Linked DNA regions of Homo sapiens. The protein of the gene in region 1 interacts with the protein of each later gene in a pairwise test. Each region holds a gene or a part of one and is shown in the gene's direction. Other genes may lie near its edges.

Region 1 (5,195 bases):
TCAGGATTCCACTAGTTTAGTCCTGTGTCTGCTGTTAACAAGTTGTATGCTGATTTAACCTCACTGTTCCTTGGACACTTCATCTGACAACTGAAAAGGTTAGACTAGCTCACCATGGTGATCCCTGTCAGCCCAAGCATCCCATGATTTTAGTTTTAATTTATAAGTGATACTTGTAAAATTTAAGTTTTACTTGCAGATTTTGTGGCATGCAGGAGACAGGCTGCCATCACTTTTTAGAAGTACAGACTTTTAATTCCTTATTGTGGTCTTAGTCCTTAGAGGTTGCATTAAAGTAGAAAAAAAAATTGAACAGAATGACAGTATATTACAATTCCCATTGAAGTGTTGCATTTGAGCTTCTGGGATTTCTACCTTGGGGAGAAGCTTCATATTTAACCCTCTAGAACCTGCCACCATGACTACTAGAGTGAGAACTTGGGTTCTTGGCACCATCACTGATGCGGCTCTGTGGCTCTTCCCATACGATAGGAATGAAGGTAGAATGAGGCCTAGGAGAAAGAAAGGACTCTCATTCCAGAAGGAGTCTTGGGCAGCTGCCCGTGGGAGCCAAGAGTGGACCTAGTGATGTCAAGCCAGGAGGAGCTACAAACCACAGGGGAAAAATTAAAACTAAGGGATAGCTTGAAGGGATAGACTTTATTTACAGATCTGGAAGATGGAGATGGAAACGGATTCGGAAAGAATGAAATCAGTAAACATGCCAAAAACTAGCCTGTAGCCTCCTGTTTCTAGGAGAAGATGCCTTTGAGAAACAGCATGCTGTCATGGAAAAGGCAGAAACAGGGAGACAGGAGCTTCTGACTCTTGTTCTGACTCTGCCACTGATGAGCTGTGTGGTTTCGGGCCAGTTCCTTCCCCTCTTCATGCCCCATCATCCTCATCTGTAAAAGGACAGGTCAGACTAGACGATTGCCCTAGTCCCTTTCCACCTTCCACTGGGATTCTAAGGCAGTGGTCATTATCCTTGAGAAACCAGTCACTCTCCCTCCATGCCTAGATTCAGAAAATGCCCACTGCGCCTAGTTCAGTGATAACAAAGGGGTTCTCAAATTGTAGCCTATAAGTGACTTAATAATAGATTAATCTGCAGTCAAGAAGCTTGCTTCAGGACAGGGAGATCGTTCTTTGGACTGAGACAATTCCAGGACAATTTCAGCCTGACAATACTAGGTTTATGAGTTTTCAGTTCAATCAACATCCATGTATTGCTGCTGTGGAGCCCAGAGAGCACTTCCTGGAAATTTTTAGCCCTGAGCTGATGAAGAAAGCTTTTTCTAGGATCTGTGCACCACCCCTTCACCTACAGACACACACGAGCATGGAAACATCCATGGTAGTTCTACAGAAGTGATGAAGGTTAGTATGGGTTGATGGAAGTTGCTCACCTAGAATGAGAGAAATACTACCTCCTTTGCATGCTGAAAGCAGTTTGACTGGCTTACATAAGAGTGGGCCCAGGCCCAAGATGGTGAAACCTTCGTACTGGTGACTCAATCTGCAGACTTGGATGGGACTTTCCCTGGAACCTTAGCTGGGCTGCAGCTTTATTTCCTAGAATCTCCTCACCTGTTTGTTTTCAGTTTAGAGTTGCCGACAGATAAATCTGCATGAGATTTAGAAGGTGGAAGTGAAGTAGTTGTCTTAAAAAAATTTTTTTTAACCCTCGGAAGGTCCGTGTAGGGCAGGCTCTGTTATAGCTTGTGCATGACATTCCTGATGTGCTGACTCACCTAACTGGCATGTGGCAGTGACTGGCCCACAGTTTCTCCAGCTCCCCACATCTCCTCCTCCAGCTTTTCCAAATCCTGGGGCAGGTGCATGTGCAGCTCCTTGGGGAAGGCTCCTGCTTATTCTGCAGATTGTCTTGCATCATCAAGATTGGTGCTTGTGAGAGAGAGATAGGTGCAGCTCTAGTTTGTCCCCAGTCTCTGTCACTTTACAGCCGCCTTCCCTCCCAACTGTCAGAACAGCTGACTGCAGGCCCAGTGTCAGACGCAGAAGCAGCAGATTTACACAGACGGCATGACTAGTGCCTCTCATTCCCTAAGGTCTGATTCCTCTGATCAATCCTTAATATTACTCATAGTTGTTCTGCTTCTCCCATCACAGGCTTTTAAATATTGTGTGGGTCAGAGAGAGTCAAAACAGGTACCACTGGAGAAACTACACCCCATTCTGATTCCCAAAGCATAGCGGCAGATGTCTGGAGAAGTAGTTCCTTGGCCAAGGTAGATGGACAATGTCATGGTGCCATAATCAGGCAAAAATAAAGGAATCTGTCCTCACTACAGCACAGCCTGTCCCCAGGCTCCTGATTATTTTTGTTTTTACCACCTCCAAGGAAGACATAGTGTTTGTCACTTAGGATGATGACCGAGCCACACATAGGTAATATAACCCAGTAGCCAGAGGGAGTGGTTTTTAAACATTTGGACAGATCTTACAGTACTGGTCAGAAAGTGAAAAAAGCAGTGTGGTCTTTGGGTTTGAGGTTTTGTGCCCGTGACCGGGTCATGCAGGTTACTTTTGCTCAGTAGTTGATCATTTGTTCTGTTGTTTTTGTTGCAAGAGAGACATCCAGACCTACTCACACCCAAACCTTGATTTCTCCCCCTTCATTCTGAACCCTTCAGTTTATTAGTATTTGCCCATTCGTTTAGTCCACAAATGCATCTGTGCTAGGTGCTGGGGATAGAATTGTGAGTAAAGCTAAACAGTCCCTGCCTCGTGGATGTTTACATGCTATTGGAAGAGACAGACAGGAAACAATTGTGGTAAGTCCAACAAGGGAGAGGTATTAGGTGGTAAAAGAGTGTCTCCTGCCAGCTCTGACCTGCTGAAGGGGTCAGAGAATAGTAGAAACCAACTCCTGGTGAGGGGCTGGTAGAGCAGTGGGCAGGCACTGGCTGGCAGCTCACTGGCACCTGGCGGAACACCAAGAGGTGGGATGGTGGTGTGCCGGGTCATGGTTAACAGCCAGTTCTCAGGGACAAAAAGGCCTGATCCTAGCATTTTCCAAAAAGACCAGAAAAGTCCGAAAGCCCCAGCCCTGCCTGCTGCAGCTGCCTCCACCTTCAGGCCGCAGCTCAGCAGCCTGAACCTTCGGGTGTTTCAGAGATATCTGTTCCCATAATGAAATCCTCACCCATTCAGCCTGAGAAGCCATAGCTTCTTGCAGCAGAAGAGACGAGAGAAGGAGTCTGTGGAAAACTGCCTCTGAAATTCCATAAGAAATTTCTCAAGAAACCTGATTCTCCTTTTAGAAACATTAATGGTAACTTAGCATTTTAGCTTCTACTCTGGCTCTCTCTCCGCCCTTGGTCCTACCACCACCCCCTCCTGAAGTCTGACCAGGTCTCCTCTAGTTGGTAATGGCAGCAGTCAGCATGCCTCTCACCTGTCCATCAGTGATGAGGGGTGATTACTCCCCTTGTCCCTGCAGGCTCCTCAGCACTACCCTGCAACCAGCCATACCCAGGGACACACAGGAGGGAAGGGAGTTAACTGGCTCCATCCAGCTAAGTGAGGGCGGGTGGGGGTCTGGGCAGCAGGCTGTGAGAAGTTCACAGTTTGTCCATGAGCTTTACGCTTCCTGAGAAGAGAATGCAATTAAGCAGGTAGGTGCATTTGGCTTTTTAACACTTCTGTAGTTAATCGCTCTTTCTCTGCCTTCTTTCTTCTGGCCTTGTGCTCCTAGTATCAGCTGTGTAATCTGATAGCTTCATTTTTTCTTTTAAATGGCTGGCATCTCAAAGACTACTATATGCATGTTGATTAGACTTAGAACATTTTGGGTTTTATGTTAGTCTGAATCCAGAATATCAGAGACAACTATTTTCTCTCTCTGCTTTTTACTTTTTTTGTCTAACTCTTCATCTCATAGGCCTCCCAGTAGCATTGGATGCAGGAAAAAATACATTGACGGTGAAAAACAAGCCGAACCAGTTGTAGTTTTAGATCCTGTTTCTACACATGAACCCCAAACCAAAGACCAGGTTGCTGAAAAAGATCCAACTCAACACAAGGAGGATGAAGGCGAAATTCAACCAGAAAACAAAGAAGACAGCATTGAAAACGTGAGAGAGACAGACAGCTCCAACTGCTGATCCATAAACCAGAAGCCTGACATGTTTGGAAGTCCTTTTCAATAAGCACATGATTAGTGTTGTTATATTGGCAAGGGCTGTAGACATTCTGCTCTGGTCACTGTATTCAGAATACAGGTTCTTTTCTGGTGTCACTTTTGTAAGTAGCAACTATAAACATAAGTAAGCTGTTTAGCAAAACACACATTCCTAGTAGGTTTTGGTTTTTTGATCTTTATAAAGATGAGGTTTTTTTCCTAGTTACTGTATTAAGTATGACTTCTTTTAGAAGGTTACAAAAAAATTCAGATGTTGATACCTTTTTAGGAAATGTGCATACCACTCATCAAATGGAATGCTGAAAGTTTGAGGTGCTTGTATATAATCGGATAAACAAAACTGATCAACCCAATGTGATTTTAAAAGCCCCCAAAGAAGCTTCTGTTTTGGGTCTGATCCTCTTGATGGAGAAACTGCAGCAGCATGGAAATTGTTGGGTACTGTGGCATACAAGTTATTTTCTACAGTAGACTGAGATAAACTGAAAACTCAGGAGCTGGCATCAAACTCGTAGTCCCATAGTCAGTGTTAATTACACACATTGTTAACTATTGGATGAAAAATACATGCTATTGATTGTGTCCAAAGCCTCCCGAGGACCTCCGTGGGGATGCTCTGGTAGCCTGAATACAGAACTGAGGTGAAAGTCCAAACCTTGAATTTTACAGTAGTAAGTTGGTAAACCATGTGCTCTGTGCTATGAGTTAATTATGTTTTCCCAAATACTAATGTGGCACAAGTACCATATTTTATCAGAGTTCTTATGTACAGTATGGTGAAGATAAGTGACAAGCACACATTTTTCTTGCTTCACTGCTGTTCTATATTACACAGGTTTGTTGTTGTTTTTTTTAAAAAAGAAATTAAGCAGTAGTTAGTCTCTAAAAATACAATGTTTCAGGCTACCACAGTGAATAAATAGAAATGTAATCAGGGATTAAAAAAAAAACTTATGCAGCTTTTCAAAGTTGATTGTTTCAAAATTGGTGTTTATTTAAAATAAGTGGTAATGTACTTGAATGCACT
Region 2 (5,185 bases), on another chromosome or scaffold:
CACCATGTGGCCAGTCTGGTCTCGAACTCCTGGCCTCAAGTGATCAACCCGCCTCAGCCTCCCGAAGTGCTGGGATTACAGATGTGAACCACCACGCCTGGCCATCTTACCATAACATATTTTTATGCACAAACATCTTTTATTGATTATCCTACTATATTTGTTTGAAATAAAGTTTTTAAATAAAAATTTAAAAATTATTATAATGGAATTATCATAATTATACAATTGATTAAAATAATGTAAATATGCTACATGTTTTAATAAGTAATTATTAAAGATTAAGAAGGCTGCCCAGGCGCAATGGCTCATGCCTGTAAACCCAGCACTTTGGGAGGCTGAGACGGGTGGATCACAAGGTCAGAAGTTCAAGACCATCGTGTCCAAGATGGTGAAACCCCATCTCTACTAAAAATACAAAAATTAGCTGGGCATGATGGCAGGTGCCTATAATCCCAGCTACTTGGGAGGCTGAGGCAGAGAACTGCTTGAACCCGAGAGGCAGAGGTTGCGGTGAGCCAAGATTGCGCCACCGCACTCCAGCCTAGGCGACAGAGCGAGACTTCATCCAAAAAAAGAAAAAAAGAAGGCCAGGCACAGTGGCTCACACCTGTAATCCCAGCACTTTGGGAGGCCGAGGCAAGCAGATCACCTGAGGTCAGGAGTTTGACCAACATAGAGAAACCCTGTCTCTACTAAAATACAAAATTAGCCGGGTGTGGTGGCACGTGCCTATAATCCCACCTACTCAGGAGGCTGAGGCAGGAGAATCCCTTGAACCCAGGAGGCGGAGGTTGCGTGAGCCGAGATGGGGGCATTGCGCTCCAGCCTGGGCAACAAGAGCAAAACTCTGTCTCAGAAAAAAAAAAAAAAATTAAGAAAAAATTATTACAGGTATATCTATGAATGAGTTCGATGAAATTGTTTCGTTCCCTACCTGTACCCTTGCACATAATTATTTCCTTTGTAGCTGAATACTGCCTATTGATTGCTAGAATGACACAGGATTTCAGCATCAATTCCATTCTGTTTTTTTCCTCTAGATATAAATGCTGAGGGACTTGATTCCCATAAATTGATAGGAATGGATGGAATTTTGTAATGACAATGTCATTAGATTATACTTCAGAATTATATACCAGAAATTACATAGTGATATTACCAAAAAATCATTTTGAATCCTCTGTCTTACGACAATTTGTGATTAGGTTACTCTTTAATTCTGGTGAAAGGAAAGAGTTAGAAACCATGTGGCTCATAAAAGGGTCTATTGCTCAGTTATTAGCGTTCACCTTCGCCATTCCACTTTGCCACCTGAAGCTTTCACATCATGGGCCACCTTATTAGGATCCTGGGAGGGTGAAACTCATGCCTTTATCTTGGGAGAAGGGAGTTTATCCCTGGGAGAAGGGAGTTTGAGAAGGGAAAGTGGGGAAGGAAAATTAAAGAGGTTTTAGGAAAGAGCACATATGGGAGTTGAAGACACGGAAGTCAGTTCTCCTGTATGCACATATTTGTGTCCGTGTGCTCCTTGGAGAGTCTTGGGGTTAACCCAGGGAAATGCATACCAGGCTTTAAAACAACTCTTCCAATCTGCTTAGTTTTTTAATATTTAAAAACCAAATGGGAGGGGAGGAAAAAACTTTTATGATCCTAGATATTCAAGAAATACATTATTTGTGACCTGTAAAGCCTCCCATATAAATCCCTCTGGATGTGGGGTAGTCCTTAGGGACACAGGAATATAAAGGGGTTGTTTTTCATTTAAATAATCACAAATTTTCTTGCATTTTTCAGATGATACAGAACTTTCAGGAAGAAGCATGTTTTATTCTGGACACAATGAAAGGTAATAGTAAGACAAACATCTTTCTCTAAGCAGTTTAACAGCTTTACTACTACTAGGCAAAGTACATACTTCTTTGAGGAGAGATAGGAAAAGTAACCATATTTGGGTAAAGAAAGTGACAATATTAGAGATTGTTCCTTTTTTTAAGTTGGCTTTTTTTTTTTTTTTTTTTTTTGAAACAGAGTCTCGATCTGTTGCCCAGGCTGGAGTGCAGTGGCATGATCTCGGCTCACTACAACCTTCGCTTCCCAAGTTCAAGTGATTCTCCTCCCTCTGCCTCCCAAGTAGCTGGGATTACAGGCACGTGCCACCATGTCTGGCTAATTTTTGTATTTTTAGTAGAGATGGGTTTCACCTTGTTGGCCAGGCTGGTCTCGAACTCCTGACCTCAAGCGATCCACCCACCTTGGCCTCCCAAAGTGCTGGGATTACAGACATGAGCCACTGTGCCTGGCCCAGCTTTTTGCCATTCTCTTCCATCTTCCATTACAGATGAGGAAATTGAGGCATGTTGTTTTTATAATGCATTTTTTTTGAGACAGAATTTCGCTCTTGTTGCCCAAGCTGGAGTCCAGTGGCGTGATCTCAGCTCACTGCAACCTCCACCTCCCTTTTCTCCCCTTCTCACGAGAATCTTACCATACTTTTTTTCTCCTGCTGTGTTTTAGAGGTGACTAAAGATGATTCTCTCTCTCTCTTTTTTTTAACAGCAGAAACCAATGATAGCTATCATATCATACTGAAGTAGGAGTGCGGCGTTTCGTGCCCAGTGGCTGCTCCTTCCTTCACCTCTGAAAACGGCCCTCTTGAAGGGGGATATGAATGGAGATTTGAAGGTCTGCAAGAACCTGACTCGTCTGACTGTGTGTGGAGGAGTCCAGGCCATGGAGGCAGAATCCTGGCCCTCTGTGTTGGCCCAAGCTCTTGTGGTACACACAGATTACTGCCCAATATGCAGTTCTGCAGCTGTTTTAGTTAAATTTCTGGACCTTGTTGTTGTTAAATATCAGTAGAAACTCTACATAATTTAGAGTGTATGTAGGGCATAATGATGATGGGAATTGTGTGATGTTTAACAGGAAGATCTTAAATTTTGTGATATGGAGCCCTGTAATTTTTTTCTTATATAAAAATGGGTATCTATATTCATAAGACTAGGTCTTCAATCTCTTTGTACTGGTCTCAAATGTACTGGTATCTCTGCTTTTTGCCACAGTTTGTCCCTGAAAACTTTATCAGTGAGGAGAAATACAGAATTTTCCTTTTGGTTCCCCTGTAATACCACAACTAATAGTATTTTCAGCTAACATTTATTGACCAGGCAGTGTGATAAATTTTTTGAATGACCATCTTGTTTAACCCCCTAATCACACTATCTGAAGTAGGTGCTATAGTGACCCCCAACCGAAGATGAGGAAATGGAGACACACAGTGGCTAAGTAGCTTGCTAGGTGCCAGGAGCTGGCAGGCAGTGATGCTGAAATCCAAACCAGGCAATCTGGCCCTCCTTATTCACCCTCTCATACCACCAGTGCTACCCATTATAACCTGTGTTCACTTCGCTTATTACTGTGGCCCTTCTGGTGACTACAACATAACACTGAGTATGAACTGAGGAATTAACCACTGAAAGAGACAAAGCACACCTAAATAATGATGAACAAATCAAGACCTACAAGAAATGAACACATAGATGCTTTTTAAGTGTCATTAGTTATCGGAATCAAAGAATTTGAGGTGGTGACAACTGGGGATTATCTGTAACTCCCCAAATTTACTGTTCTTGAATGACATTCTCAAACTATTTATTAATGAGTTAGTCTCATCCCTGCTTTCTGTTTCCTCTCTCTGCATCTTCTCTTGGCATAGGAAGTTATTTTACTCATGCTATGTTTTTTAATAGAAGCTTTACAAAAAAAGATGCATTCCCTTCCTGTTCACACTCTTACCATGTTTTTGTTCTTCCTTAAGAATGATTGTGTGTGTGTGTGTGTGTGTGTGTAAGTGTGTAAGTGTAACATCATGGGTTTTCTTTCTTCACTTGTAAAGTTTTATCTAGAAATACTTTTACAGGTTATGTTGAGGTACACAAAGATAATGTTCTAAGATTGTGTATTGGATTTGGATTTGTGTGTGTGTGTGTGTGTGTGTGTGTTTAAAGCATTTGATAAGGTTTAAATGTTTTTTATACAGAGATTTTTGTTCATTAAACTCAATCTGCATCATGGTCTAATTTCTCTTGGTTTGAAACAAATTGAAAACTTTGAAACCAAAAAATTAAGTCAATGACTTGTTTAAAACTGACCTGAGCAACTTGTTATATTACACCAAAATGCTTCTTAGTGAATGATTACCAGGTGTCTCCATTTTGAGGAGGAGACGTATCTGGTTGTCTTATATTCCTAGTACTGGTTCTCAACCTCAGTTCTTTCCTCAGCAGGCTGCTATTGGTTTGGATTTTTTTTTTTTTTTTTTTTTTTTTTTTTATGTCTAGGTGTTTGGGTAGGAAAGTTGGACTAGATGCCTTTTTCTTTTTTTTTTTTTTTAATATAGAAATGAGTCTGGGCACCGTGGCTTATGCCTGTAATCCCAACAATTTGGGAGGCTGAGGCAAGCAGATCACTTGAGGCCTGGAGATTAAGACCAGCCTGGCCAACATGGTGAAACCCTGTCTCTACTAAAAATACAAAATTAGCTGGGCGTGGTGGCACACACCTGTAATCCCAGCTACTTGGGAGTCTAAGACATGAGAATTGCTTAAACCTGGGAGGTGGGGTTGCAATGAGTTGAGATCAGGCTGCTGCACTCCAGGCTGGGTGACAGAGCAAGACTGTCTCAAAAAAATTTTTTTTAATAAAATAAAATATAGAAATGAGGTCTCACTGTGTTGCCTGCCAGGTTGGTCTTGAACTCCTGGGCTCAAGTGATCCCCCGTCTCATCTTCCAAAGTGCTGGGAGTACAGGTGTGAGCCACCGTGCCTGGCCAAGACTAGGTGACTTTTTTGTTTTGAGACGGAGTCTCACTCTGTTGCCCAGGCTGGAGTTAAATGGCCTGATCTCAGCTCACTTGCAACCTCTGCCTCCCGGGTTCAAGCAATTCTCCTGCCTCAGCCTCCTGAGTAGCTGGGACTACAGGCACGGACCACCATGCCATGCTAATTTTTCTATTTTTAGTAGAGATGGGGTTTTACTATGTTGGCCAGGCTGGTCTTGAACTCCTGACCTCATGATCCACCCACCTCGGCCTCCCAAAGTGCTGGGATTACAGGTGTGAGCCACCGCACCTGGCCCAAGGCTAGGTGACTTTTAAGGTTTCTTCCAAATCTTTGCATTTGT

Evidence for each region. Proteins that work in one complex are often made in the same cells at the same time.
Region 2: the proteins of SHTN1 (region 1) and TFCP2 interact in binary tests that used the Homo sapiens proteins (3 or more experiments, as listed by UniProt).

The regions. Positions count from the first base shown.
Region 1 is NC_000010.11:116,885,279-116,890,473, reverse strand, and holds part of SHTN1 (shootin-1), read left to right. Parts: intron 1-3,907; coding exon 3,908-4,130; 3' UTR 4,131-5,195. UniProt on the Homo sapiens protein: Involved in the generation of internal asymmetric signals required for neuronal polarization and neurite outgrowth.
Region 2 is NC_000012.12:51,092,653-51,097,837, reverse strand, and holds the end of TFCP2 (alpha-globin transcription factor CP2), read left to right. Parts: intron 1-1,797; coding exon 1,798-1,849; intron 1,850-2,559; coding exon 2,560-2,597; 3' UTR 2,598-4,182; downstream 4,183-5,185.